7 separate regions of the Homo sapiens genome follow, and all the other regions are linked to region 1. Evidence: fine-mapped expression QTL. A gene starts in region 1. Each other region holds a variant in brackets. All regions are shown on one strand. Distances are between the middles of the regions. Region 1 holds the start of KANK1 (KN motif and ankyrin repeat domains 1). Region 2 overlaps LOC124902109 (a long non-coding RNA gene). Region 3 overlaps KANK1 (KN motif and ankyrin repeat domains 1). Region 4 overlaps KANK1 (KN motif and ankyrin repeat domains 1). Region 5 overlaps KANK1 (KN motif and ankyrin repeat domains 1). Region 6 overlaps KANK1 (KN motif and ankyrin repeat domains 1). Region 7 overlaps KANK1 (KN motif and ankyrin repeat domains 1).

The links. PIP is the estimated chance that this variant, and not a neighbour inherited with it, causes the effect.
Region 2: its variant is the best candidate, but not a certain one, in a credible set for the expression of KANK1 in lymphoblastoid cells (GTEx, PIP 0.73).
Region 3: its variant is the best candidate, but not a certain one, in a credible set for the expression of KANK1 in esophagus mucosa (GTEx, PIP 0.84).
Region 4: its variant is the best candidate, but not a certain one, in a credible set for the expression of KANK1 in whole blood (TOPMed, PIP 0.86).
Region 5: its variant is the best candidate, but not a certain one, in a credible set for the expression of KANK1 in cerebellum (GTEx, PIP 0.65).
Region 6: its variant is the best candidate, but not a certain one, in a credible set for the expression of KANK1 in skeletal muscle (FUSION, PIP 0.82).
Region 7: its variant is the best candidate, but not a certain one, in a credible set for the expression of KANK1 in sun-exposed skin (GTEx, PIP 0.57).

Annotation. Positions count from the first base shown.
Region 1 is chr9:502,715-506,779 of GRCh38, forward strand. It overlaps KANK1 (KN motif and ankyrin repeat domains 1), which reads left to right and starts at 1,981. Exons shown (of 12, transcript NM_015158.5): 1 at 1,981-2,040. It overlaps LOC105375947 (translation initiation factor IF-2-like), which reads right to left and starts at 2,839. Exons shown (of 4, transcript XM_047424276.1): 1 at 2,546-2,839; 2 at 2,225-2,455; 3 at 983-2,107. The coding sequence starts at 2,839. The coding sequence ends at 1,286. RefSeq lists a silencer at 1,617-2,106.
Region 2 is chr9:749,190-753,254 of GRCh38, forward strand. It overlaps LOC124902109 (a long non-coding RNA gene), which reads right to left. Exons shown (of 4, transcript XR_007061394.1): 2 at 1,162-1,396; 3 at 147-307. Among named protein-coding and RNA genes, the nearest start is that of KANK1-AS1, 66 kb to the left of the region's middle. The variant A/G (reference allele first, on the strand shown) is at 1,955.
Region 3 is chr9:742,995-747,059 of GRCh38, forward strand. KANK1 (KN motif and ankyrin repeat domains 1) reads left to right here. Exons shown (of 12, transcript NM_015158.5): 11 at 1,497-1,595; 12 at 2,179-3,109. The coding sequence ends at 2,241. Among named protein-coding and RNA genes, the nearest start is that of KANK1-AS1, 59 kb to the left of the region's middle. The variant T/A (reference allele first, on the strand shown) is at 2,044.
Region 4 is chr9:526,093-530,157 of GRCh38, forward strand. The region is part of intron 1 of KANK1 (KN motif and ankyrin repeat domains 1); the gene reads left to right. Among named protein-coding and RNA genes, the nearest start is that of KANK1, 23 kb to the left of the region's middle. The variant A/G (reference allele first, on the strand shown) is at 1,889.
Region 5 is chr9:630,094-634,158 of GRCh38, forward strand. All of the region lies in intron 1 of KANK1 (KN motif and ankyrin repeat domains 1), which reads left to right. Among named protein-coding and RNA genes, the nearest start is that of KANK1-AS1, 53 kb to the right of the region's middle. The variant G/A (reference allele first, on the strand shown) is at 1,512.
Region 6 is chr9:704,827-708,891 of GRCh38, forward strand. The region is part of intron 2 of KANK1 (KN motif and ankyrin repeat domains 1); the gene reads left to right. It overlaps LOC107987042 (phosphatidylinositol 4,5-bisphosphate 5-phosphatase A-like), which reads right to left. Exons shown (of 1, transcript XM_017015393.3): 1 at 2,082-4,065. The coding sequence starts at 3,499. The coding sequence ends at 2,597. Among named protein-coding and RNA genes, the nearest start is that of KANK1-AS1, 21 kb to the left of the region's middle. The variant A/G (reference allele first, on the strand shown) is at 2,238.
Region 7 is chr9:674,438-678,502 of GRCh38, forward strand. It overlaps KANK1 (KN motif and ankyrin repeat domains 1), which reads left to right. Exons shown (of 12, transcript NM_015158.5): 2 at 2,453-2,572. The coding sequence starts at 2,536. The region is part of intron 2 of KANK1-AS1 (KANK1 antisense RNA 1); the gene reads right to left. Among named protein-coding and RNA genes, the nearest start is that of KANK1-AS1, 9.1 kb to the right of the region's middle. RefSeq lists an enhancer at 1-194. The variant T/C (reference allele first, on the strand shown) is at 2,517.

The sequences.
Region 1 (4,065 bases):
GGGGTTTCACCATGTTGGCCAGGCCGGTGTTGAACTCCTGGCCTCAAGTGATCCACCCATCTCGGCCTCACAAAGTGCTGGGATTATAGGTGTGAGCCAGTGCACCCGGTCGAGGGCACTATTTATTTATTTATTTTTGAGACAGGGTCACACTCTGTAGCCTGGACTAGAATGCAGTGGCTCAATCTCTGCTCACTGCCGCCTCGACCTCCAGGGCTCAGGCGATCCTCCTACCTTAGCCTCCAGAGTAGCTGGGACTACAGGCGCGCGCCATCGCGCCCAGCTGATTTTTTTTTTTTTTTTTTTTTTTTTTTGGTGAAAACAGAATTTCACTGTATTGCCCAGAACTCCTGGGGTCAACTGATCTACCTGTCTCGGCCTCCCAAAGTGTGAGGATTATAGGCCTGAGCCACTGCGCCTGGCCGACGAGCACTTTTAAAATGCAGGAGTCTTCCTGCCTCTGATATCTCATCCCTTATCACCATGCAAACAATTCTCCTTTTCATAGAAGAGTAGACATTTGGGGCGGGGTGGTGGTGGTGGGGGATTTTAGAAAATATCTACTGCATCCAAATGCCCTACTCTACAGACGAAAAAGCAAGGCCCAGGAGGAGGAAAGAGTTTGCTTACTGCCACCCAGTGAGCTGGCAAAGGCGCTGAGATTCAAAATGAGCTTTCCTGCCTTCACATATCTTCCGGCTGCCCTTTGCCTATTCCCTAAACAGTCAGGAGCCATCAAGTTCAGGAATTTGCAGGTGTGCTTCGCTGTGAACTGTGGAAAAGCAGCGTCTTCTCCCCAGAGGCAAGCATGTCGCCTTGTGAAGTTTGATGGCTCTTCACTTGCACACTCACAAAAAAGACTGAGCGTGTGTAACGCCCTGCTGGATGTGTGCGGTGCTAGAGAGCTTGGGGGTGAGGGGAGGACTCTCTCCCTTAAGAAAATCAGTTGACTGCAGAGCTAACATTGTTTTTTGAGTAATACCTGGTTTTTATAAAGTCGTCCCTTCAGTTCCCAAGCTCCTCTTCTGTTTGTTCAAGCCACCTTCAATTTGAAAAAGACTGAAGTCACAGCTTCTCAATCCCTACTAATTTCTCATGGACCTACTGGATTGCTCCAAATCGAGTATTTGGGACTGAACTAGGAAGCCAGTTCAATCCTGAGCCCCCGAGGCAGGCGTTGGGTCTTCTGTGGAGTCCCCAGAGACCTGCAACCTTCTGAACACGCATCCTCCCCTTTCCGCCGAGGACTCTGTCCTGCAGCCGAGCCAGGGCGAATGCACGGAGGTCACAAGGGAGGTGCCCTTGGAGGCGGGAGGTTTCTGGCCGCCGGGGCGACCGTGCTGACGAGGCACCTGCAGGAAACAGAGCTCTGCACGCTCCGGTCCCCCTCACCCGGGGAGGGAGAGGAGGTACAGAGGCGCTGGGGGAGGACGTCGAGCAGGCCAGCCTCGTTGCCAGAACCCCCGCCCCAGCCGGAGATGGGAGCACCGCACCGTCTCACGGGGGCTGGATTTCTTCTCCCCTTGCGGGTGTGTGTGCGAGGATGGACGTGGTAAATACGGGTTGGCAGAAGGAGCGAACCGCGGTGGAGGAAGTTCTTCTGCTTAGTTCTCGCCGCGGCGAGGCCCGCGGGCCAGGCGCGGCGACGAAGGTGCACGAAGGTGCCCCGCGGGCCTGGTGGAGTTGCAGCGGCGCGCAGGCGCACTGAGGGCCGCCCGCGGCCGGCTCCGCGGTACAAAGAGCGCCCCCGCGGGGAGCCGGGCGTCCTCTGGGCGGAGGGAGCAGCCGGGGCTTCGCCGGCCCGCGCCGTTCTTCTCACGCGCCGCTCCGGGGCGCAGCCACAGCTGTCGCCCACCGCGGGTGAGAGGCTTGCTGGTCCGCCCCGGCTTCCCCGCCCCGGCGGCGGCCGTGCGGTTCGGGCTTTAATTCTGGCGCTTGCCAGCCGGGGCCGACTCCGCCCCCTGCGCCCCGCCCTTCCCCGAGCTCCGGGTCCGCGGCGGAGCGAGCGAGCGGCCGGCAGGTTGGGAGGAGCGGCCGAAGGTGAGTGACGCGGCGGGGCCGTGCCGCGCCCCGTGCCGCGGCGAGGTTGTCCCGGAGCGCGAGGCCCCTACCCCTGCCTCGGGCTGGCCCCGCGCGGAGCCGACTTGGCGCGCGCCGGGGTTGCGCGGCGGCCGTGGCGGTGGCGGAGGGCAGCCCCCGCGGGCTCCCGCTCGTGCGGGTGAACCCGGCGGCCTCGGGGCGGTCCTGGGGGGGGGTCCGAGAGGTGGCGTCGGCCCCGCGGCCGTCGGAGTTTGGCGCGCTCTGCAGCGGCGGCGCTCGGCCGGTCTGGAGGAGGGAGAGGCGCGCCGGGCACGGAGCAGCGAGAAAGTTCGGGCCGGGCCGGCCGGCGGGAGGGTGCGGGCGCCTGGCTACCCCGGCCCGGCGCTCTGTCCCTCGGATGCCTCTGGGCCCTTCCCTAGCCCGGGGCGGAACGGGGGACCCTCTCTGAAGCGGCTCTCCGTGGAGTTGGATGTTGCCCTTCGCGGGAGGGAGTGGCGGTCAAGACCCCTTTATCCTCGGCCCCAGAGGGGCAGGTGGCCTCGGGTCGCCCTCCGCCAACTCCGAGGTGGCTTCGGCCGGGGCTGGAGGGCGGGGAGGCGGGGGAGGGGCGTGGGCGCTGCGGCCTCTGGGGCGGCCCAACCCGGCGCGGGCAGCGTGGGTTTCCGAGGTCCCGCGGTTCCAGGTCGAGGGAAGGTGTAGGGGCCCTGAAGCGGGCTGGTCCCCGAATGTTGCGTTTTCTGTGCCGCTTTGGGCAACACGCAGTGGCGCTCGCGGCAGCCACGGCTCCTTGACCGTTCATCTCCTTCACCCGGGTCCCGTGGAACTTTCAGAGGCAACTGTTCTTGGTGGCTCTTGCGGGTCAGCACGAGCCGTGCTGCACGAGCGTGACCTAGTGAAGGCCTTGGGCGAGTTGGCGTTAACAATTTATGGCGTCCGCCAGCGCTCGCTTTCCGCACGTGGCCTCTGCGGAGGGTCAGCCCATCTTATTAAATAGTGGATTCTATTAGACCCTGATACCCGAGGCTAATAAGGAAGCTTAATCATCCAGATGTGTAATCGTGCAGTTCCTTTCCTCACCGTCATTGCCCCCCACCTCTGGAGCTGAATGGAAATGAGGGTCTGTTTGCTTATATTGAATTCCTGAGTTTATTCAAGTTCATTTTTAGGTGGCGTTAACAGCTAAGTAGCTGTTCATCTGCCAGTTTCTCCTTTCATCCAACTTTCTCTACTAAAATGTTGAGCACGTTTTATTTAAAAAAAATTGAAGTGTAATAAACATATAAATTTACTCTTCTAAGGTCAAAATTCAGTGGTTTTTAATATATCCGTAAAGTTATGAAATCATCACTACCATCTGATTCCATTTCGTTGCCCCCAAAAAGAACCCCTATACCGATTAGCAGTCATTCTTCCATCTCCCAGCCCTTCTCCCTCATTTTAAGGCAGCTACTTAGGAAGTTTTTCTAAGATAGAGACTGAGTGAGAAAACTGAGAGGTGATTAACTTTGATCCTTTTTCTGTTACTAGGTTTGGGGAAAGGTGCTGCTGAAGCAATGGAAGAAAAATTAAGTATTGGCTGTCCTATGGGGAGGTTAAAATGAATAAGGATGGAAGAGAAGCTGCCAGTAGAGGAATAATTGCCTCCTGTAGAGACCCACAAGTTGGGAATACATTTTATCCCCTTAGGGCACAGGGATGCTTTCTGGGCTCTAGACTTGCCTAGTCCATAAATCACTCTAGTCGAGGTTCTGCCTCAGCGAAAGTGAGTTCTGGGTGTGTGTGTGTGTGTGTGTGCGTGTGCGTGCGCGCTCGGCAGGGAATGTTAGAAGGAAAAAAGACTAGGCTTAAAAGTAATTTTTTAAAATATCCAAACTGGCCCCAAAGAAAGAAACCAAAAAACCACAGGCAAATGGCCACTGGAATTGATACATTCAAGACTAGTTTCATTTCATGAGTATCAGTTCACAAATAGTTCTGAGTTAATGTGTGCATACATTAACTTTTTATCCCAAGTGGGAGGAGGAG
Region 2 (4,065 bases), 250 kb after region 1:
ACAAGCATCCCAGGTGTTTCTGAACATAGCCTTTGGTCCACACTAAGAAGCTGTTGCTCCCAAAGTATGAGACATGATGCATCTGTTCTTCCCCACACATGTTAGGCAAGGTGGGGGAACTACATCAAAACAAACATTGGCTTTACCTTAGCTCTCTAAGGAGCCGGGCTTCCACTGGTGATCAGGATCCCACATAGGTTTTCTGTGGTGCTGCACATCCATGTTCAGTAGCATTTCTGCATCTCCTGGAATATAGTCATTTCTAGAAGTCCAGGAACCATGACTGCCACAGATCCATTTTTCTGTGCTTGTAAGGACCAGAGAAGGTGGCTCAGTATATAGGTGACAGTGGCTGGGCAGGCAGACAGCCCTTAGAATATTTTCCCAAGCTAATCTTTTCCATTTCCACTTCCTCGTGGAGTTGGACTATTACTGCTCAGAAGGAGGCCATGAACCATTGCTTTGGCTTTGGAATAAAGAATTTTCCATTTTCTTTTTTTTACTAAAAGCACCTTTTTTTTAAAGCCCTAGGCCTTAGCCAGAAACTGTTCTACTTTCTGCATAAGGAAATTACTAATCATACGTTTTCTCTGCTCTTATTCAGCATGGCTGTAATTTAAAAGCCAGCTGATTATAAAAATATAAAGTACATTTTGTTGCAGTTTCTTACCACAAAGGATGTGGCTGAACCGTAGACCACAACGTTCCTGAGCTGCTCACGCTCGAACCCCTCCCCACTGAAGGCACCAGCTACTCCCTGCAGGGACCAGACAGTCATGGCTTTTCAAGCATGAAAGATGGCATTATTTGGAACTTGTAATGATATCCTTGAGATACCTATCCTGAATTCTGGCAAGGATCTTGCAGTGAAGCTGGAAAACAACATATCATTTTTGCAGGTGCATGCTTAGACAGAAATGTCTGATTTAGAGGATGTTGGGAAGGAGCTGGCATTTTAAGAATCCAGCTGCCCACTGCATCTCCATTAAGACCTTTGTTGATTAAATAGGTAAGAGGATGGAAAACATATCCCTCATTTTCATAAAATGGAAGCTGCATAACAAATATTCCTATTTCTAAAACCAAATGTCAATCTTGTATTTGAGCCAAAATAACTTTTACACTTGTTCCCCATTCCCCAACCCAGAAGGAACTAGTTACCCAGCCCTAGAAACCACCTGGAAGGCTAAGGCTGTACGACTGAGGGCGAGAGAAAATCCCTGAGCTGCAGACAGGCAGGTGCTGCTTTGCTGTCACTGGTGCAGGCAGCTCGATGCCTTGTTGAGGCTGGTTGTAGGAGAGCAAGTGCCAGCTGGGCAGGCCGCTTCTCATGTGTCGGGCAGCAAAGAGATTCTTGCTATGGTCCCATCTGCTCTTTTAGGAAGTACTGGATGTGCTTAAACAGGTAATAAGGAAAATATTTATTAGGTAAAATCCCTGAGAGTTCAGAGAGCTCACCCACCCCCAATCCTGCCTAAAATATGTCACCCCCACCCCCAGAAAAATCCAGTCTTCCAACAGGAAGCTTATTAGGATGAAATCTCATGCTTCGGTTTGTAACACCATCTGCCAGGACTGAGAAGTTCCGGTGCCTAGCTGAGAAATACTAGTTGAATGAATGAGTGTAAAAAAATAACTGATGGTGTTAGAAGTCAGGAGTGTTGCCATGAGGGAGCTGGAAGGAGCCCAAATGGGGCTGGTGGGCTCCTGGTAATGGTCAATTTCTTGCCTGGGGGGTAGTTGCACTGTTATGCTCACTTTGTGACCATTCATCAGGCTGTAGACACACGTGTGTGCTTTCCTGTATGTATATTAACTTCAATTTTTTTTAAAGTTTAAGAAAATGAAAAAGTTTGATCAAAAAAAACCTTGGGAAGGAAGGTGCAGATTTGAGAGTCAATATAATCAAAGAGATAGTGAAAGAAGGTAAAAACTGGAAACTCTTAGCCCTGCT[A/G]TTTCTTGAATGTGACCACATAGTTTTGCATGATGGCCATTGTGGCCCACTCGTAACCTTGAATAGCAGTCACGAGGGCTGTTCTCAGATACTCCAGTTCTTTTTCTGGGCACAACAGGATCGGATGTACTACCCACACACTTTTGAAGTTACACTTGGCCATGTGACTTCTCCAATGAAACAGAAAAGGTTATGTGTCAGTTCCAGATGGAAGCCTCAAAAGCCAGTGCAGTTTACCGTATCTTGTACTCCCCTTGTCACAGTGATGATCACGGAAGCAAGTGTTGACACAGACATCCCATTAGTGTCGACCCTGAGTGACTACGTGGAATAGAGTTTCCTTGCCAAGCTGTGTTGCAGGTGTATTAGGAACAAGAAATAGTCCTTTATTATGCTAAGCCAGAGAAGCTAGGGAGTGACTTGCTGTCACAGCGTAACTTAGATTTTCTTTATCCATACAAAAACTGGTTCCTCGAAGTGAAGTGCTGCTGTGTAACCAAATGGCTTAGTTGATTGGCGGACAGCAACAAAACTGTCACTGGGGACTTAATCATAGAACAATGACAACTATTTGGATGACTATTTTCTTAATAATCCCCAGGGATGGTACATACCAGTACCATCCTAGTTGCAGAGAGAGAATGTAACCTATTATCTACAGTGGATGCCTTAGGGCACTAGGGACTACATATTTTTGTGAAAGGAAAGCCATTTCCTGTGTACAGTCTGCCTAGATTGTCTCTTAGAAACGTGTAGCTCTCAAACTTTGGTGTGCATCGGAATCCCCAGGAGGGTTTGTGAAAACACACTGCTGGGCCTCAACCTCGACTTTCCAATTCGGTAGGTCTGGAAAGAGGCTCAAGAATTGGCATTTCTAACAAGTTCCCAGGTGGTGCTGATGCTTCTGGTCCAGAAACCCCACTTTGAGAAATGCTGCTCTAGAGGAAGGGCTCTGATAAGGAGGATTCCTGTCCATCAGGGAGCTCTAAAGTGTCTGTTCTTTCATCTTTGTAGGCTTTCGTCTTTTGCAGTTTCCAGTGACTAAACCTTATGAGTTAACTTGTTCCCTGTGGAACTTTTGCTTCCCAGTATAAAAAACAAATTCTGCAAAGATACCATTGCCCAATAGGAAGTCTTTCTACAGCTTGTACAATATATCAAGTGTTTATAAATCCTGTATTCATCCAGAATTTGGCCATAGAACTTGACTCACAGCAGTCTTAAAAAAAAAAAATGACTCATACATTTCCCTTAGAAAGTAATGTTTCTTTATGCTAATCCCATGAGTTTCTGTGTCAGCTCACTCCCTTATGAATGCACATTTTAAAAAATCATGGTTGGCCGGGTGCGGTGGCTCATGCCTGTAATCCCAGTACTTTGGGAGGCTGAGGTGGGTGGATCGCCTGAGGTCAGGAGTTCGAGACTAGCCTGGCCGACATAGTGAAATCCTGTCTCTAATAAAAATACAAAAATTAGCTGGGCATGGTGGTGGGCACCTGTAATCCCAGCTACTCAGGAGGCTGAGGCAGGAGAATCGCTTGAACCCGGGAGGCGGAGGTTACAATGAGCCGAGATAGTGCCGTTGCACTCCAGCCTGGACAACAAGAGCAAAACTTTGTCTCAAAAAATAATAAAAAAAATCATGGTCTCCTCTGGAAACCCAGGTGGCATGGAGGAGAGTGTGCTGCACTGCTGCCCTCTCAGCTGCTGCCTCTGCATTCCATCCTGGGTTCTGATTCTGCCATCAGGCAGAAGTGCACAGTGTTTTTCCTTTCCAGAGCAGAAAAACGGTCATCCTAGGTGTTCACACTGAGATGCAAGAGACTGAGTCATCTGTGTTGGAAAGCCACAGGGGTCCAATGAACCCAGGAACCAATTGAAGATCCTCTTGCCTAAGGACACATATGGTATGTCCACAGCGCTAAGTTCAGAGACCAAGTTGAGATGAGTTAGAAGAGGGAGAAGACATCAGTGTTTCACTGGGAAAGGAGGCAACTTGTTTATATCTTCTCTCATCTGTAAATTCACCTCCAAGAGACAAGACACTCAGAAAGTACACTTGCTGAGATTGATTAATGGAAGGCCTTGAATGACCAAAGGAACGTTAATGA
Region 3 (4,065 bases), 240 kb after region 1:
CACATTTCCAGATAACTCCTTGACCGGGAAACTCAACCAAAGGGGGTACTTTTGCGTGTCTCTAGGCCAAAGGACAGGAGTGGTGATAGGTAGAAGGTAGGAACTGGCATGTAGGCAGTGAGATGGTGTAAAGGTCACAGAGGTCGGGTTGGCTTGGTTCCGTTTTTGAAAGTTTATCTCTGTGGATCACAGGTTTGGATCAGAGCTTCTTTAGCTCAAAACACCAAAAAGTTAGGAAAATATCCTTTGTAGGTCAGATTCTTCTGGGCCCAAGCCAGTAGGGAGAAAAACCAGCGGAGTTTTTCACTGGTATGAGGGACTGACTAGCTTCACACTCAGCCATCTCCACAGGAGCACATGGAAGCTGCAGCTGTAGCAGATTCCCTTCTTCCCCTCTGTGGGAGGGAGAGCTTCTGACCGACTTCTTTCTTCCAGAAGAGTTTGTTAGCTGTGCTGTGGTTTTTGTTTGATTTTACTTCTATTATCTTTCAAAGCTTTTGAGGGGAAGGATCATAAGATTAAACCAAAGAGAACTGTGTCCTGCTGCTGCTGCTGACCAGAGGGAAATCCGTATTTCAAGACTAGATAGGCTGGGCACAGTGGGTCACTCCTGTAATTCCAGCACCTTGGGAGGCTGAGACAGGAGGATCGCTCGAGCCCAGGAGTTCAAGACCAGCCTGGGCAACATAGTGAGACTCCCATCTCTACAAAAAAAAAATTATCTAGGTGTGGTGGTATGCACCTGTAGTCTCAGATACCGTGGTGGTTGAGGCAGGAGAATCACTTGAGCCCTGGAGGTCAAGGCTACCGTGATCTGTGATCGTGCCACTGCACTGCAGCCTGGGAGACAAACCCTGTCTCAAAAAACACACTAGACAGAAGACAAGTTGTGTTGTTCTTTCCCTTGATACTCCTTTATATCCATTTAAATCCCTGAAATTTAATGGAAATCAAGCAGTTAAGTGAAGCTTTTTTCACCCATATGTAGTGTTTCCCCTCTTATTTCCAGAAGTTGGATCTGTGCAACCCACTGGGATTGCGTGCTTACACACAGATGTTACTTGTAGCCTTAAACCGAGGTGGTTTAGGGTTTTAGGATCACAGTGCCCTCTCTAAGAGGAAAGGTAAAAGATCTTTGGCAAATTGCAGAGTCTCTAAACACACACTACTGCTGCTTGCCTGGTCATTCATAATTAATTAGAAGAAAAAAAAACTTTCTATCCCCATCTTCTGCTTCCCCCTCCTGGTGGGCAGAATGGTTGAGTAAGATAATCCTCTTAACTGGGACCTCTGGAGGGTGGAGGCTTGCCTCATTCATCTTCACATCCTCAGGCCTTCACCCTTAGAGGTCCCAAAAAAGTTTCCCAGAAGACCGAACGAGTAGGGATATTTGGGGAACCTTGCCAATTATTGGAGGGTGTTTTGTTCTGTTACCTTTCGGTTGTCTGGAGGTTTGAGAAACCCAACATGGCTTGTTCTTTCCATCTTATCTTAAGGATGGCAGCACTGCGCTCTCAATCGCCCTGGAAGCAGGACACAAGGACATCGCTGTTCTTCTGTATGCCCATGTCAACTTTGCAAAAGCCCAGTCTCCGGTCAGTGTTGTGCATTTGGCATTTGTAAATAGGCTGAAATCCACCAGACTGGTGGACCCCCTTCCTCCAGGAATTGACGGGAGACAGATTTTATGTTGATTCAGAAAATGGAAGTTTTAGTCTGGAGCTTAAGAGTTCATCCTTTCCGCCTCCACCCCGCAAAAAGCAGGAGAACTAATGTTTTAGCAGAGGCTGGACCTTGCTTGTCCTTGCAAGACATATGCTCACAGCTTCCCATAGAGGTTTTGATTCTGTGCAGAATTATCCAGATAGCAGCCCCTGAGCCCATGGGGATATTTCGCCATGGTTCTGGCATTGTTCCTGAAGCAGATGGCAGGCAGCCTGTAGTCCACAGTTCACTCTGAGTGGGAAGGTGACTTCCCAGGACAGCCGGACATAGCACTGCTGAGCCCAGCTGGCCTTGGAGCTGTGGACACCTGTTCCCTGT[T/A]CTCAGCCAGAGCTCTCCTGGCTCGGGCTCACAGCTGCTTGTTGCCTGTGGTGGGCCAAGATCCTATGTCACAGGGTACACATCTGCCTGAGGTCACTTATTAACCCCCAGTTTTTTTCCTTTCCTGGTCTCTAGGGCACCCCTAGGCTTGGAAGGAAGACGTCTCCTGGCCCCACCCACCGAGGTTCATTTGATTGATTGTATGCAAATAGCCCTTTATTTACATGCCACTATTAAGCTGCTAATTGTTCCTGTTGGGGTGACAGATACTGAATGTATACGTATTGTGCCTGAGCTCACCAGCAAACAGAAGCATCAAGCCCAGGGGTAAAGGCTGAAGCTTTCACAGTGCAGAGACTGCTAGCCTGGGCACACACACCTCCTTTCTGGCCGTCTTCTGTGTAGGGCACACTTTAACCCAGTCTCTGTTGCTGTTGAGTCTCTGCTCCGTTTTGTACAGTCACAGGGAATTCTGATCTGAAGGGGCACCTTCTGTTCACTCCCACAAAGTGGTGTCTGGTTCTCACTGAGACGTTTTAAGATTTTTCCACAAATATTTATATGTACTAAATGTGGAACCATTAGAAAGTTCTTCCAAAATCTCATTCCAGCATAGTTTTGGATTTTTCTTTTGTCTTATTTTAAAATAAGGAAGTCGAGATGACTTTGATCATTGGTAACTTGGGCCTGGGCCAGACAAAGTATAAAACTTACAAAAGAATATTCTCATTTGGTCTTAACTAGGTAGATGTAATATATGACTTTTTATAAAAAGGGTATCTATATGAACTTGACACAGTATTTTCAGCTTTTGTATTCCATACTAAAGCCATGAAGAACTACACGTAACATCATCATTTGTATTAATTGCACAACTCCAATGCTAAAGGTTGGATTGTGTTAGAGGAATCGGCTCTGTATTTGCCTCTAGAGAAACACAGTGTTCTCTTTGTATTTATGGATTCCTTTTTACCGTGTCACATTTACTTTGGTCCTCTATGTATTTAAATGTTTGAAGTGCCTTAGACTCTTGCCATATTTTCAAAATAAAATTCCATTAAGCTCTTTTCCTTGTCCCTGTTTCATCTCTGATAGCTGTCCGCCCCGAGCCGATTGACTTACGGCAGTGGCAGCACACGCTGATGGATTGAGCTGAGCAGGGAGGGTGAGTGCGCCAGTTGGCTCCGACAGGGAGACAGCATCTTCCGAGGGCGCTTGTCCACTTGCACAGCTTGGCTCCTGACTCAGATTGCAAGTCGGGAGGCTGAAGTTTGAGGCCTCCTTAGACAAAGCGCTCTTCCGATGGGTAGCCGGAGATGCTTCTTCTCAGGTGCAGAAGCACTAGTCCTTGACTCTGAGTACAACTGCTGGGTGACTAGGTGATACGTGTAGTGACAAGAAAGGAGAGATGAAGCCGGACACTTTTTTTTTTTTTTTTTTTTTGAGAATGGAGTCTCACTCTGTTGCCCAGGCTGGAGTGCAGTAGCATGATCTTGGCTCACTGCAAGCTCCACTTCCTGGGTTCACGCCATTCTCCTGCCTCAACCTCCCAAGTAGCTGGGACTACAGGCGCCCGCCACCACGCCCGGCTAATTTTTTGTATTTTTAGTAGAGACAGGGTTTCATCGTGTTGGCCAGAATGGTCTCGATCTCCTGACCTCATGATCAGCCCACCTCGGCCTCCTAAAGTGCTGAGATTAAAAGCATGAGCCACTGCATCTGGCCTCAAATTCTTTTTAAATAGTAAAGTAAGTTGGGACCATCTCATTAAATGAAGCAGCATGGCAGCCAGAATTCAAACCAGGTGTTCTGGCACAATCGCTGGTGGTGAGTTTTGGCCAAGGCCATCTATGAGAGCCAAGTGCACTGGAGAAATATCAGAGACTTCTTCTTTCCCTCCCTCCCTCCCCCGCTTTTAAAAATTAAACATTATTGAGCTCAGGAAAGAGGCCAGAGAATAGACTTTTCCCATAGGTGTTTCATTATGAGGTCTGTTTCAGAGTCAAGATTTGAACCTTTCAG
Region 4 (4,065 bases), 23 kb after region 1:
AGTAGGAATTCTGATTTTATTTTGTGATCTTAGTCACTTTACAATTATAAAAATTTTGGAGCTAATGAGAAACCTGAAAAATTCTGAAGTCTTCAAGGAGTGTGATCCTGGTGCTGTCTCTCAGGCATTTCTCCCAGAGAACGGGACGGCAGAGCAATGACTGTTCCCCAGCCCACAGGTAGGAGCTGGTGGGCAGCACCAGCAGCAGTAGACCTAGAAGTCTTAGACTTAGATGTGATTTGAAATATGGCTTTTATTATGGGAGCAGCACACATAAGACCATCATTGGTTCTCATATGGGAAAAACCCTTGAATATTGGCTCTAGGACAGATTTTAAGGCTGGGTGTGGTGGCTCGTGCCTGTAATCCCAACACTTTGGGAGGCCGAGGCTGGAGGATTGCTTGAGGCCATGAATTCAAGACCAGTCTGGGCAACCTAGCAAGACCCTTTCTGTACAAAAAAATAAAAATTACAAAAAATTATTTAAATGAAATTTAGCAATGTTTTATGTACGTGTCTTCTCATACTTCAAAAAGTCAAGTTGTTCTACAAAACCGTCCATGAAAACAGTAGCTTTCTGCCCTGCTTTTCCCACCTGATTCCCTCTCCTCAGAGGAATCTCTCATCTATCTTCTGATGTTGAACCATAAGAAAATGCTGATATTTGACTGCTTTAGATCTGTGAAAATGACTGTATCTTGAGAAAGCATGCTTATCATGTCATTTCTTGATTTTTTTAAATTCAATTTTGGATATTTACTTTCCTCACACTGTGGAAGATGAAGATATAACTCTTATGACTTCCCCCAACACGTCTCTTCTCCTGCTGTAATATTAATATGATTTTTGTTTGATTAATATATAATGTTTATAGTATTATTTAGACTGGAAATAATTCACAGCCAAGACATGTAATTTAAATATTTCCTTCCTCATACAGCTTTTGCCCACCCAGAGTTAATCATTGTTTTGAGTGCTTGTTTTAAGTACCTGTCACTGACTCATTCCCAAACTGAAGCCTAACCTTCCTTTCTGTGTGTTTGCACACCTCAGGGTAGCTGTCCATTCATCCTTTCTTCCTGAAGGCGTCCCTTCTGAAGTTTCCAGGCCGTTCTGTACCTTCTCTCTGTTTCTCTTCCCTGGATACTATGGTATCCTCCTCCTTTGTGGTTTCTTTTGGTCTCTGGTTTTTGTGTGTTTTTTGTTTGTTTGTTTGTTTGTTTTTGAAATGGAGTTTCACTCTTGTCGCCCTGGCTGGAGTGCAGTGGCGCGATCTTGGCTCGCGGCAGCCTACGCCACCCAGTTTGAAGTGATTCTCCTTCCTCAGCCCCTCAAGTAGCTGGGATTACAGGCAGGCGCCAACACACCCAGCTAATTATGTATTTTTGGTAGAGATGGGGTTTCACTATGTTGGCCAGGCTAGTCTTGAACTCCTGACCTCAGGTGATCTGCCCACCTCTGCCTCGCAGAGTGCTGGAATTACAGGTGTAAGCCACTACACTCGGCTGCTCTCTGGTCTTGGTAGAGAGCATTGGCCAACAGCTTCTGCACAAGGTTACAAGGGAGATAGTCTCCTTGAGATTTGGCATATCTAAATTGTCTTTTTTTTTTTTTTCTTTTACCTTCACACTTACTAGTTTGGCCAGGTGTACAGTTCTAGTTTGAAAGTCCTTTTCCCTCAGAACTTTAAAGAGATTGTTCCCTTAAGTTCCAGCTTTTTATTAAAAAAAAAAAAATAGAGTTTCCCCTCACTTCTCTTTAAAAGTTTTTAGGGGCGGGGCGCGATGGCTCATGCCTGTAATCACAGCACTCCTGATCACAAGGTCAGGAGATTGAGACCATCCTGGCCAACATGGTGAAACCCTGTCTGTACTAAAAATACAAAAA[A/G]TTAGCCAGGCGTGGTGGCGGGCGCCTGTATAGTCCCAGCTACTCGGGAGGCTGAGGCGGGAGAATGGCATGAACCCGGGAGGTGGAGCTTGCAGTGAGCCGAGATCGTGCCACTGCACTCCATCGAGCCTGGGCAACAGAGCGAGACTCCGTCTCGGGAAAAAAAAAAAAAAAACTTTTTAGGATTTTTCTTTTTGTCCAAGTATTCTGATTGGTCTTTTTGCATTCATTTTTCTGGGCACACAATGGCCTTCTCAAACTGGGAACTTAATGTTTTTCAATTATTGGAACATTTAAAAAATTATATTTAGATAACTTTCCCTCTTTTCATTGAATTTGCATTTTCTAATGTTGGTGGTCCTTCTGGGCAATCCTCTGATTATCTTACCTTTTTCTCTCCTATTTTCTATGTCTTGGTCTTTTTATTCCATTTTCTGGTGGATTTCCTCAGCTTTACCTTACAACCATTTTACTGAATTAAAAAATAACTTTTTTTTTTTTTTTTTTTTTTTTTTTTTTGAGACGGAGTCTCACTCTGTCACCCAGGCTGGAGTGCAGTGGCTTGATCTCGGCTCACTGCAGTCTCTGCCTTCTGGGTTGAAGGTTGAAGCAATTCTCCAGTCTCAGCCTCTCAAGTAGCTGCGTTACAGGTGCCCGCCACCATGCCCAGCTAATTTTTGTATTTTTAGTAGAGACCTGGTTTCACCATGTTGGCCAGGCTGGTCTCAAACTCCTGACCTCAGGTGATCCAGCCGCCTCGGCCTCCCAAAGTGCTGGGATTACAGGCATGAGCCACCATGCCATTTTCAAGCTAATATGTCTCAATTTTTTTTTCTTTGAGGCAGGATCTTATTTGTAAGCCAGGCTGGAATGCAGTCTTATGATCACTGCTCACTGCAGCCTTGACCTCCTGGGCTTAAGCAATCATCCCACCTCAGCCTCCCGAGTAGCTGGGACTACAGGTGCATACCACCACGTCCAGCTAATTTATTATTTGTTGTAGAGATAGGGTCTCACTATGTTTCCCAGGCTGGTCTTGAACTCCTGGACTCAAGTGATCCTCCTGCCTTGGCCTCCCAGAGTGCTGGGGTTACAGGTGTGAGCCACTGTGCCTGGCCCATGGCTCAGATTTAAAAGATGTAAAAGGTGTATAGTGAAAAGCCACCCACTTCCTGTACTAGCTACCATATTCTCTCTTTACAGGCAACTGGTATTCCTCCTTCCAGAGATAACTCTGTTAATATATATATATATACACACACACACACACACACATATACACACACACACAGACACACACACACATATATACACTTTTTTTTTTTTTGAGACGGAGTCTTGCTCTGTCGCCAGGCTGGAGTGCAATGGCGCCACCATGCCCAGCTAATTTTTGTATTTTCAGTAGAGATGGGCTTTCACCATGTTGGCCAGGATGGTGTTGATCTCTCGACCTCGTGATCCACTTGCCTTCGCCTTCCAAAGTGCTGGGATTACAGGTGTGAGCCACCGCGCCCGGCCTCATACATATTTTTAAAATGTGTGTATATGATCATATTCTCTCTCCCTGTGAAATCACAGATGATAATAGACTTCATATATTGTTATGCATCTTTTTTTCATAGAACCATGTGTCTTCAGACTGCTCCATGTGGAGGTATGGGTTTCTTTTTAAAATCATTTTAAAGAGCAGCATAGTATGATTTTAAACTCCATATTTTGTTTAATCAGTTTCCTATTGATTTGCTACATCCAACAATGCTGCAAGGGGTAACTTTGTACGTGTATTATGCTCACACGTGATAGTGCCATGTGTGATGAATATGGAATTACCAGGTGAATGCATATGTGCATTTGTACTTCTCACAGATGTTACTCCAGCTGCCTTTCATGGAAGCTGTGCTAACTTATGCTCTCACAGGCAAGGCATGAAAGCACTTGTTTCTTTATATCGTTGCCAGTACAGTATGTTATGACATTTCTTAATCTTTACCAATCTGTTAAGTAAAAAATGGTATCTCATCTGTTTTTAATTTGCATTTCTCTTAGGAGAATGAGCATATTTTCATAAATTTATAAGAGCTGTTTGTATTTGTGTTTCTGCGAACTGTTCATATCCTTTGCCATTGGGCTGTTACCAAGTTGTATGACATTATACCTAAGGGAAATAAGCCCCTCAT
Region 5 (4,065 bases), 130 kb after region 1:
CAAAAATTAGCAGACGTGGTGGCATGTGCCTATAGTCCCAGCTACTCAGGAGGCATAGGTGGGAGGACTGCTTGAGGCTGGGAGTTCGAGGCTGCAGTGAGCTGAGGTTGCACCACTGCATTCCAGCCTGGGCAACAGAGCGAGACTCTGTCTTAAAAAAAAGAAAAAAAACGAGTTGGGGGGCAGGCACGGTGGCTCACGCCTGTAATCCCAGCACTTTGGAGGCTGAGGCGGATCATGAGGTTAAGAGATGGAGACCATCCTGGCTAACATGGTGAAACCCCATCTCTACTAAAAGTTCAAAAAAATTAGCCAGGCATGGTGGCGGGCGCCTGTAGTCCCAGCTACTCGGGAGGCTGAGGCGGGAGAATGGCGTAAACCCGGGAGGCGGAGCTTGCAGTGAGCTGAGATCCCGCCACTGCACTGCAGCCTGGGCGACAGAGCGAGACTCAGAAGGATAAAAAGTAATAACCTGAAGAGTAGCTTCGTTTCAGGTGGAAGGTGAGAGAGGCTGCAGAAAGCTTAGGGCTGGGCGCGGTGGCTCATGCCTGTAATCCCAGCACTTTGGGAGGCCAAGGCGGTCAGATCACCTGAGGTCAGGAGTTTGAGACCAGCCTGGCCAACATGGTAAAACCCTGTGTCTACTAAAAATACAAAAATTTAGCCAGGTGTGGTGGCAGGCGCCTGTAATCCCAGCTCCTTGGGAGGCTGAGGCACGAGAATCACTTGAACCCGGGATGTAGAGGAGCTCCTTGGGAGGCTGAGGCACGAGAATCACTTGAACCCGGGATGTAGAGGTTGTAATGAGCCGAGATCATGCCGCCACACCCTAGCCTGGGTGACAGAGCAAGACTCTGTCTCAAAAAACAAAACAAAACAAAAAGTGCTTAGTCAATATCTGGTTGTTGATTGTTTAAGGAAAAGGCCAAGTGAGGGTATGACTGGTTGGTAGAAATATGTATCTTGGTATAAGCAGTTCTAGGAGTGATATGTGTCTTTTGCTGCTGTTATTGTTGTTTCTGTTCAGCGTTAATACGTTTTGCATTGTACCACAAATATTTCCTTACTCCTTTGCCTTTGAGACAAAGGGCATGAGTTTATAAGTTGAGTTGAAAATAGATTAAATATATAGTACAGCCTATGCCCAGCAAGCAGAATTATCTATGCAAGTTATGCAGCCCACACGGAAAAAGAAATGCTGTGCGGCCTCATTAGCACCCCAGGATTTGTGGGGCTCCCCCTGGGCAGCCTTAACCAGGAAAATTTCATAGTCTCCTTGGCATTCCATCCAAGATTTAAGACTTCTCCTTTCATCTCCTTGAGGACCATCAACTATACCCTTGAGCTCAGCCATCCCACGCACTGAGGCTTATCTGTACTTCCAGCCCAGACCTCCCTCCTAATTCCCCACTATACCTGTGCACTGAAACACCCTCTTAGGATCTCCTTCTTCCACATTCCTCCTCCTCTAGGCAAGGCAAGTCGTTTTCCTCATCTCAGCCAGAGCAGTA[G/A]TTACTGAAAACTAACCCAATATGGTGGCTTCTGAGCTCAGGTGTCTTTCAGTGACTCCTGCTGCTTCCAAAATAAAGTCCAACTGTTTAGCTTGGCATGCAAAACCTGTAGTCATCCATCCCTTGCATATTTAACTCCTCACACACCCCATTCTGTGGTCTCTTCTTCCCTTTGCATCTGCTCTGGGTGCTCTTTGAAGACTGTACTTCCTCCCCTTTGGGGCCAATTTAGTCATCTTTAAGCCTCATTTCAGGGGTGGTGTCCTCAGATAACCCTTCTTCACATACCAGTTTGGGTTATCTACCGCTGTGGCTCTATAGCTCTCAGCTCACACCAATAGGATAAGTATTTAACATACTGTTAAATTACAGTATGCCATGATAACTTCTCTTCCATCATTCTGTATTGCATGAGTACAAAGACTGTGTCATTAATCCCTGTCTCCGTAGCATTGTGTCTAGCCTTTAACAGTCACTTAATAAAGGCAATGAAAAGGAAATAACATTTGACCTTCAATTTAAGTTTGACTAGGTATGGTCAAACGTTAGAAAGTGGCAGTGAACTTCTTTTGAAGTCAGAATTCATATTTTCCTTTAACATCAGATATTGGCAGCCAGCTTTTCCAGATTTTCTTGGCCAAAAATATTACTAAAATTGCATGCCCCTAGATTTTGATATCTAGGATGATACATCTACAGCATGTAATTATTTGTCTCAATAATTGAGCTTTACCTTAGGGCTCTAAGAGAAGAGGTTAAAGGAATCAGTGGTTTAGTAATTGTATTGTTAATCTTAAAATGAAAGTTGAATGGAAAATATTTTAAAAACTGGTTAAGAAGATAATTATTGAGAGCATGGAAAAGATAATTACTACATATACTGTAACTGGTGAAGATGGAGGTTTTATGAAAAATAAAGCAGCTTGTAATTTTTTACAACTTCTTTCAAATGCACCTTGGACTGCCAAGGTGAGAGGCAGGGGAGGACATTTTCATTCCGTGGAGTCACACTGAGGATTTATCTTGTAATTGATTATCACATTATCTGCTTTGATCCTCATGAGATAATGAGAGTGGTGTTTTGTTTTGTTTTGTTTTTCTTTGAGATGGAGTCTCTCTCTGTTGCCCAGGCTGTAGTGCAGTGGTGAGATCTCGGCTCACTGCAGCCTACACCTCCTGGGTTCAGGTGATTCTCCTGCCTCTGCCATTCGAGTAGCTGGGTTTACAGGCATGCGCCACCGCACCCGGCTAATTTTTTTTTGTAGTCTTAGTAGACACGGGGTTTCGCCATGTTTGCCAGGCTGGTCTGGAACTCCTGACCTCAGGTGATCCACCTGCCTCAGCCTCCCAAAGTGCTGGGATTACAGGCGTGAGCCACTGCTCCCAGCCTGAGAGTGAGTGTTTTAGCAAAGCAAAACGGCAGAGGTAACATGGCCCCCTCCCTCCACATCTTATGAGGTTTCCTACCATTTTCTGTCCAATCGTGACTTTTTCTACACTCACTTTTAGTGCCCCATAAGAAGGATATTTAATGAAACCTTTTATGGACTATTGATAAGAACCCAACCCTTGACCGGGCGCAGTGGCTCACGCCTGCAATCCCAGCACTTTGAGAGCCGAGGCGGGCAGATCAGAAGGTCAGGAGATCGAGACCATCCCGGCTAACACGGTGAAATCGCATCTCTACTAAAAATACAAAAAAAATTAGCCGGGCGTGGTGGCGGGCGCCTGTAGTCCCAGCTACTTGGGAGGCTGAGGCAGGAGAATGGCGTGAACCCGGGAGGCGGAGGTTGCAGTGAGCCGTGATCGCGCCCCTGCACTCCAGCCTGGGTGACAGAGCGAGACTCCGTCTCAAAAACAAAACAAAACAAAAAAAACACCTTTTTTTGTCTTGCCATTCAAGTTACTTCCAACAGTGCTACCCCTTCTCCCAAGACTCTTAATGTAGTCTGTCTGTCCATAGCATTGTATCCAGATTCCTGAACCTGGCATATGAGCTCTCAATAATTCATTCTGACTCATCTTTCCAGGCTTACTGTTTAAATATGTTTTATTTATTAATGTTTGAGACAGGGTCTCGCTTTGTCACCCAGGCTAGTGTGCAGTGGCATGTTCATAGCTCATTGCAGCCCTGAACTCCTAGACTCAAAGGGTGTTCCTGCCTTAGCCTCCCAAGTAGCTGAGATTACAAGCACATGCCACCACACCTGGCTAAGTTTTTATTTTTAGTAGGGACAGGGTCTCCTTATGTTGCCCAGGCTGGGCCCAACTCCTAGCTTCAAGTGATCCTCTGGCCTCAGCCTCCCACAGTGCTGGGATTATAGGCATGAGCCACTGCACTGAGCCATAAATAGATGCAAGTCAAAATCCAAGAAAACCTTGAAACAAATTGCCTTACATGGTAAGAAAGGTTTATCTTTTTCATAAGTTCAGAAATGAACTTCTGGGGTTAATTAATTTGTAATTGCCCAATTGCACACACAAAGCCAATTCACTGAGACTGTGATATTGCAGTAAAGAAAGAGTTTAATGAATGCTAGGCCAGCAATGTGGA
Region 6 (4,065 bases), 200 kb after region 1:
TTTTAAAAAATTAAAATTAGCCAGGCGTGGTGCTACATACCTATAGTTCCCAGCTACTCAGGAAGCTGAGGCGGGAGGATCACTTGAGCCCAGGAGATAGAGACTATAGTGAGCCATGATCGCACCACGTCACTCCAGCCTGGGCAACAGAGTCGGACCCTGTCTCAAAAAAAAAAAAAAAAAAAAAAAAAGAGCAATACCCACGTGTTGTAAAAATTATAAAATATAAAGAATAAAAATCATCTATAATTCCACAACCTAAAGATAACAACTGAAACAATATCATGGAAGAAATGTCCTTAACACTAATATTTAACGAACAACTTCTGTCTTCAGAGCATCAAGATGTTTTTCAAAGTTTATTATCTTATTCTGTTGGCCAGGCACAGTGGCTCACAGCTGTAATCCCAGCACTTTGGGAGGCCGAGGCAGGCAGATTACCTGAGGTCAGGAGTTTGAGACCAGCCTGGCCAACATAGTGAAACCCCATCTCTACTAAAAATACAAAAAGTAGCTGGGCGTGGTGGCACACGCCTGTAATCCCAGCTCCTCGGGAGGACGAGGCAGGAGAATCCCTTGAACCAGGGAGGTGGAGGTTGCAGTGAGCCAAGATGGCGCCACTGCACTCTAGCAAGTTTATTATGTTATACTATATATTCAGTTATTTATTCCTTCAGTAAACGTTGTCAGACATCTCCTTTCTTCCCAGCATGTTGATAATTGGTGTGTGGTTGGGAGAGGAAGCAATGAAAAAAAAAATGTATATTTTTTTTGGGGGGGTGGGGGCGGAGATGAAGTTTTGCTCTTGTTGCCCAGGCTGGAGTGCAATGTGTGTGATCTTGGCTCACTGCAACCTTCACCTCCCAGGTTCAAGCGATTCTCCTGCCTCAGCCTCCCAAGTAGCTGGGATTACAGGTGCCCGCCACTATGCTTGGGTAATTTTTTATATTTTTAGTGGAGATGGGGTTTCACCATGTTGGCCAGGTTGGTCTCGAGCTCCTGACCTTCAAGTGATCCACCCTCCTCGGTCTCCCAAAGTGCTGGGATTACAGGCATGAGCCAGCGTGCTCTCCAAAAAAAATTTTTTTTAATTAAGTTTTTTGCTCTCTGGGTGCTTATAGTCTGGTACAAAAGACAAAAAAGTGTTTTCGTCTTGTTAAAGTTGGGAAATAAATCAGGGACTCATAAGTGCCTAATTTATGTTGATGTATGTAAACATACACTAGAAAACAGGATATTAAAAAAATAATGACACCGGGTAGTTTTATTGTAGAATAATTTTTACCATGGACAATTGTTTGTGAAAATGACACCTTGAAAACACATCTTACTTTTTTACTTGCTGGAGAATGAAACTTGAATTACAAGTCCTTTGGGTAGCCTGGTTTGAGCAGTATTAGGAAATAAGCAAGCCTAACTTAGTTAAATTCTAACCTCTTCTGATTCCCAGAAGTCCAAAGTTCATTTGGGGGTAATACAACGTGATACATGCTTTTTGTGATTTCTACAAGGTGAACTAAAGAAATAACTAAAGATGGACCAGTTAGGTTTTGGTAAAAACTGTGATAAGTTTTGTTGTGTTTTAAATACTGATGTTGAGTCAGTTCATCTTTCCTACTGAAAATCCTTAAGTGGGAAAAGTATAGAAAAAGTAGGAGTTACACCAAAATATTAACGCTTGCCACTTGATGGTAGGATCTGAGTGCCCTTTTTTTACGTTCTTTAAATTATCTGTATGTGGCTTTTTTTTTTTTTTAATGTTTTACAAGCATGTACTACTTTCGTATCTGGAAAAAGGTTTGTTTTTCTTTCATTTTTTAAGAAGAACTTTTCATCAGTGGCAAAGGCTCAGTTGAAATTAATGATAAAGGATAACTACTTGCCACGTGTCATAAGCCCAGGGCTGAGAAGAGTCAGGCAGTGCTCTGGAACCAGTGAGTGCTGCCCGGATCCTGAGAACCCGCAGAGAACAGTGGGGCTGATTGTGCCTCTGCACCTCCTCAGGTGACCGAGGGCTGGGCAGGAGGACACAGACTCTTTCATGAAGCAGTGACTAGTATAGGAAAAACAGAGCCTCTCTGTAGAGATGCTTAAAGTGCTAGCTTTATTTAAAAATCAGCTGGCAAAGCGGGAGTGAAGAACACACATTTTCAGAAGATACCGGTTTCCTGTTTTCATTAAGAAAACAGGGAATGCGGAACAGCTGAGTGCGGCGGGGGTGGTGTCACTGCAGCCGG[A/G]GGGAGACCTCGCCGGTGAAAGCTCAGCCTATGGCATCCGAGCGTGGCCGGCCAAGTTTACACGAATGTTGAAACTTCTCCTCACGGGGTGAGGATCGAGGGCGCCCGAGGCCGGGTCCGGCTGAGCTGGAGCGAGCTGTGCGGGGCAGCGCGGGCTGGCGGGGAGCGCGGCGGGCGCCACGTGGTAGGTGAGCTGCGAGCGGCGTGGGGCGGCCACCGCTGGCCGAATTCCGGGGGGCCTGGGCGAGGGGGGCCGGCCGGGAAGGTGCGCACTGCTGGGCCGCTTCACTCCACCGCAGGCCTACGGGAGTCCAGCTTAGACCCGCCGGCTCCCACACACACATCCCGGGAGGCCCGGATCAGCCTGCCTGACAGCCAAGCTGCAGCTTCTCTCCTGTTAATGGAGTTTCAGACAGTCCTGGAGACAGGTCTGGCTGCTGCAGCTTCTCTCCTGTTAATGGAGTTTCAGACAGTCCTGGAGACAGGTCTGGCTGCTGCAGCTTCTCTCCTGTTAATGGAGTTTCAGACATTCCTGGAGACAGGTCTGGCTGCTGCAGCTTCTCTCCTGTTAATGGAGTTTCAGACAGTCCTGGAGACAGGTCTGGCTGCTGCAGCTTCTCTCCTGTTAATGGAGTTTCAGACAGTCCTGGAGACAGGTCTGGCTGCTGCAGCTTCTCTCCTGTTAATGGAGTTTCAGACATTCCTGGAGACAGGTCTGGCTGCTGCAGCTTCTCTCCTGTTAATGGAGTTTCAGACAGTCCTGGAGACAGGTCTGGCTGCTGCAGCTTCTCTCCTGTTAATGGAGTTTCAGACAGTCCTGGAGACAGGTCTGGCTGCTGCAGCTTCTCTCCTGTTAATGGAGTTTCAGACAGTCCTGGAGACAGGTCTGGCTGCTGCAGCTTCTCTCCTGTTAATGGAGTTTCAGACATTCCTGGAGACAGGTCTGGCTGCTGCAGCTTCTCTCCTGTTAATGGAGTTTCAGACAGTCCTGGAGACAGGTCTGGCTGCTGCAGCTTCTCTCCTGTTAATGGAGTTTCAGACAGTCCTGGAGACAGGTCTGGCTGCTGCAGCTTCTCTCCTGTTAATGGAATTTCAGACAGTCCTGGAGACAGGTCTGGCTGCTGCAGCTTCTCTCCTGTTAATGGAATTTCAGACAGTCCTGGAGACAGGTCTGGCTGCTGCAGCTTCTCTCCTGTTAATGGAATTTCAGACAGTACTGGAGACAGGTCTGGCTGCATATTTTGAGTGATCACCTTCTCCATGTGGAGATGAAAGTTAAAAGGGAAAGAGAGAAGGACAGCTACGTTCTTTTAACACGAGCACAAGTTTCCAGGCACAGCCCTCCCGACCAGCCCTCCCATTCTTAGGCTAGAGCATGACTGCTGCTGGGCACTTCTTTCACATAGAATTCACTTCCCACACGTGTTAGAATCGAACAGCTAGAGCAATTTAATATTGTTTTAAATTGGGACGTAAGGAATATACGTCCTTTTTATTCCTCTGCTTGGCAATCTTATTTTTGTACTTTCTTTCCAACATTTGGGAAGAAAGCGGGCAGATGGAAGCAGAAGTGTTCTTCACAGCATTCACACTGTCGGGTGTAAATGTTCGGCAGTGCTGGGGGTTGGGAGGGCAGACAGCAACCAGGTTTGCTGGAAGTTACTTCAAACTGGACAGCAGTCAAGTGGGTTTGTATACTCAGGAGAGGGCAGGGAGACTGATGGCTTACATTTTCACTCATTGCTTTTGAGTTCTTTCCATAGCTCTAAAAATGCGCAGCTTATTAGCGTGGCTCTGGGAAAACAACACATGACCTGATCCTACAATT
Region 7 (4,065 bases), 170 kb after region 1:
AGTTGCTTTCACAGTAGTTAGCTTTGAACTGTGGTGCAAACCCATTTAAACAATGAGGGAAATTTCACTAAGTGGCAAGAAATTCTCACCCTGTGTGATCAAAGCAATCAGCCATTTCCTTTTCTTTCCTTTTTATTTACTTATATTTCTGACCCCTTATAATCTTCATGATTGTAGCCTGATAGTTTCCTTTTTTGAATAGCATTTAAAAAAATACCTTTTCTTTTCCCTGAGGGTTTTAAAGCAAATAAGACAGAAGGGGTCTAAATTTTTAGTTTTGTTTTTTGAGACAGTCTCGTTCTGTCGCCCAGGCTGGGGTGCAGTGGTGCAATCTCAGCTCACTGCAATCTCCGTCTCCCAGGTTCAAGTGGTTCTGGTGCCTCAGCCTCCCGAGTAGCTGGGATTACAGGCGTGCACCACCAGCCTTGGCTAATTTTTGTATTTTTTAGTAGAGAAGAGGTTTTGCCATGTTGGCCAGGCTGGTCTCAAACTCCTGACCTCAGGTGATCTGCCTGCGTCAGCCTCCCACAGTGCTGGGATTACAGGTGTGAGCCACCGCACCTGGCCTAAATATTTATTTTTAATAATGATTATTATTACAAAAGTAAGAAAAGAGCTAAAATCCATGATTTCATCACCCAGAGGCAACCACCACAGTGAACATTTTGGTACAATTACTTCTCATCGTTTAAATGTGTACATATACACATACATATTTTTAATAAAATTAGGTTTAGGATAGTATACAGTTTTGTTTTTCTTTTAACCAACATACTTTGAATATTTTGCCTTATTAAAAACTTATATGATTTCAATGGCTGCATTAGAATTAGTGTATACAGATATTATTTTGGCATTCTGTTGTTAAGAGGTCATGTGGGTTTCTGAATTGACACTTTAATTCTCAACTTAGAATTTATTTCTCCCAACTTCTTCTGATTTCATGGGTCTAGAGTCAGAGTTTGGGCACAATGGAAATGGGATTTCTATATGTACTGTTGTTTACTGTTTGCTAGTATTTTTCGAAAGGTATTTGCAAAAACCAAAGGGGAAACAGTATACTTTTTTGTATTTTTTTTTCTTTTTTTGTTTTAAATTTTGTGATTGAAATATAAGTCTTATTATGGTAATCTCAGGTAACTTTTAAATAGAAATATCAATGCAAAATGAATATATTGCCCAATGTGGACCCCGGTGTTTCAGAACTATGTGCCATGCTCTATCATTTTGTTACTGGAAAGGGGTCTTAATCCAGACCCCAAGATCTTGGATCTCTCACAAGAAGGAATTAGAGGTGAATCCATAGAGTAAAGTAAAAGCAAGTTTATTAAGAAAATAAAGGAATAAAGAATGGCTACTCCATAGGCAGAGCAGGAGCGTAGGCTGCTCAACTGATTATACACACAGTTACTTCTTGATGCTAAACAAGAGGTGGATTATTCTTGTGTTTTGCAGGAAAGGGGTGGGTAGTTCCTGGAAGTGAGGGGTCCTCCCCTTTTTAGACCATATAGGATAACTTCCTGACATTGCCATGGCATTTGTAAACTGTCCTGCTGCTGGTGGGAATGTTTTTTAGCATGCTAATGCATTATAATTAGCATATAATGAGCAGTGAGAATGACCAGAGATCACTTTCATCTCCATCTTGGTTTTGGTGGGTTTTGGACGGCTTCTTTACCACAACCTGTTTTATCAGCAAGGTCTTTGTGACCTGTATCTTGTGCTGACCTGTCTCATCCTGTGACTAAGAATGCCTAACCTCCTGGGAATTTAGACTTAAAATAAAGGTCTCAGCCTTATTTTATCTAGCCCCTACTCAAGATGGAGTTGCTCTGGTCCGAATGCCTCTAATAATTTGAAGTTTATCCAACGGCACAGTGGGAGATAATGAATTTTTGTTTAAGAGGAGGAGGACTGACTGGATCAGATTTGTGCTTTAGAAAGGTGGTTGCATGTAAGAAAGAGGCGTTGGTAGAAAGACTTCGGATATCTCAAAAGAATTTCCATGAAGTTAATCTTTTTAAAAATGTAAACATTTGGTGCAATAATTGCTTTGAAATTGCAGTTGAATAAATGAACTTTTTGAACCAGAATTTGGAAAGGAAGATATGCTTAAAAACCAAAAATATTTCGTAGAGTGCTACACATTAGGAAGTCATTTGTATTTGGTGACCACTTTCCTAAAATAGTCTCATTTCTAGAGAACCAATTTTGTTTCCCATAGATTATTATGTGTAGAGACCCCCTTTCAGTATGTAGCCACTGGTACATCCGTGGGTGTTATCTCCATACTGCCAGGTCCAATGCAGTCACCTCCTGGATCTATAGTCTTTCTCCCCCCATTCCGATTTCCTTTCTCTGTTAGCAGTCATCTTTGTAAACAGAAGTCTAAGATTTAGTTTGTACATTTTTTAAATGATCCATTTTGATGGGGCTCTCTTTATTGTTTCAGGTTGAATGCCTTTGAGAACTTGATGCATAAAATTTGCATGACTCCTCACTCCTTTCTGGATCTC[T/C]CATTGGACTCAAGCCAGCATGGCTCACACCACAAAGGTTAACGGCAGTGCCTCAGGTAACCCTGTGCTCTGGAGTTTGTGTGTTAAATGTATGTCTTTTCTCAAACTAATTTTTTATTCTCTTTAATAATGAACGGATAATAGCAAGTTGCCTAGATAACTAGGATTTCAAAGCAATTTTCTGTCCATTGAAGTTTGGGTTTGTTTTGTTTTACTCTCAGAAAATTTGCTTTTATCTTAGAGTCTTGCACTGAAATCAATTGAGTAAATTATTACCTAAGTCAATTCTGTTGAAGTGTTGAAAGACAAATGTAAATACTGAATGCTGATGCAAATGTAATGTATACTCCTCTTGCACTTCTTTCTGAGGGATTGAATGAGGAGAGAGGAAATTAGTTTGGATGCTTAAAACCAATTCCTAGTAGCCACTCCCAAGCAGCTTTTGTTTGATGTTGCTAAACAAAGAGAAAGGAGGGAAGAGAAGTATATATTCTGTAAAATGATTCTCTTAGGAATATGCAACAAGCCATATTATGAATCATAAAGACCTGTATTTGAATTCTTATTTTGGTTATATTAGAGACTTACATAGTTTCACTTTCTGTTCCAATATTGCTTCTGTGAGATTCGGGAGAAATCTGTACACGAAATGCAGAGAAGATCCTCCTAAGAGACACATCACCATAGGGACAACCTGCCCAAAATGGCGTGCCAAGTGTTCATTTCTTTTTTGAGTTATGTGCCAAATAGCTGAATGAGTAAGAATAGTAATTGTCTATGCAGAAATTTTTTCTGAGCGTCTGAGTCCAGACTCCTACGTCTGCTGGCTCTGAACACCTTCAAATGACAACATTATATACTGGAGCAAGTGTAGAATTGGAGCCAGGAAACCTGAATTTGAGTCCTAGTTCCAGCACTAACCGTGAAATATTGGGCAGGGCTATTTCTCCACATGTAAACCATCGGTAAGTATATCCACCTGCCGGTTTAGGACCAGTGAGCGCACCAGAAACATACTTAGAGGAGCTATGTAAGCCGTAAAGCACTTTTGAAGACAACAGCAGGAAGTGACCTCTAAAGTGGGCATTCCCAGCCCATGAATGTGACTTTTTATTCTAGCGGTCTCAGCTGCAATTATCTCCTCTGGGTAGAACACTATAACCCAAACCCAGATAAACTCAGTTATTTGTTCTGGGATGACTGATCTTTCCCTGTCCATTCCATTTTTGACCTTTTTTACTGCCCAGCTTCTTGAGACTTTTATAGATTCTGCTGTGGGACTGCTATCAATAATAAAGACATGAATGATAATATCTAACATTCATTGAACACTTAAATGCACCATGGTGCCTAAAATGCTTTGCCTGCATTTTCATACTTAATCCTCACAATAATCTAATGAGATTAAGCTATTATTTTACTGTCATCATCATCCCTATGTAATGTCACAGAGAAGTTCAGGGACTTACTGTAAATGAAGTAAGAAAAATCAGAATTATGGGCAGTGGCTCACACCTGTAATCCCAGCATTTTGGGAGGCCGAGGGGGA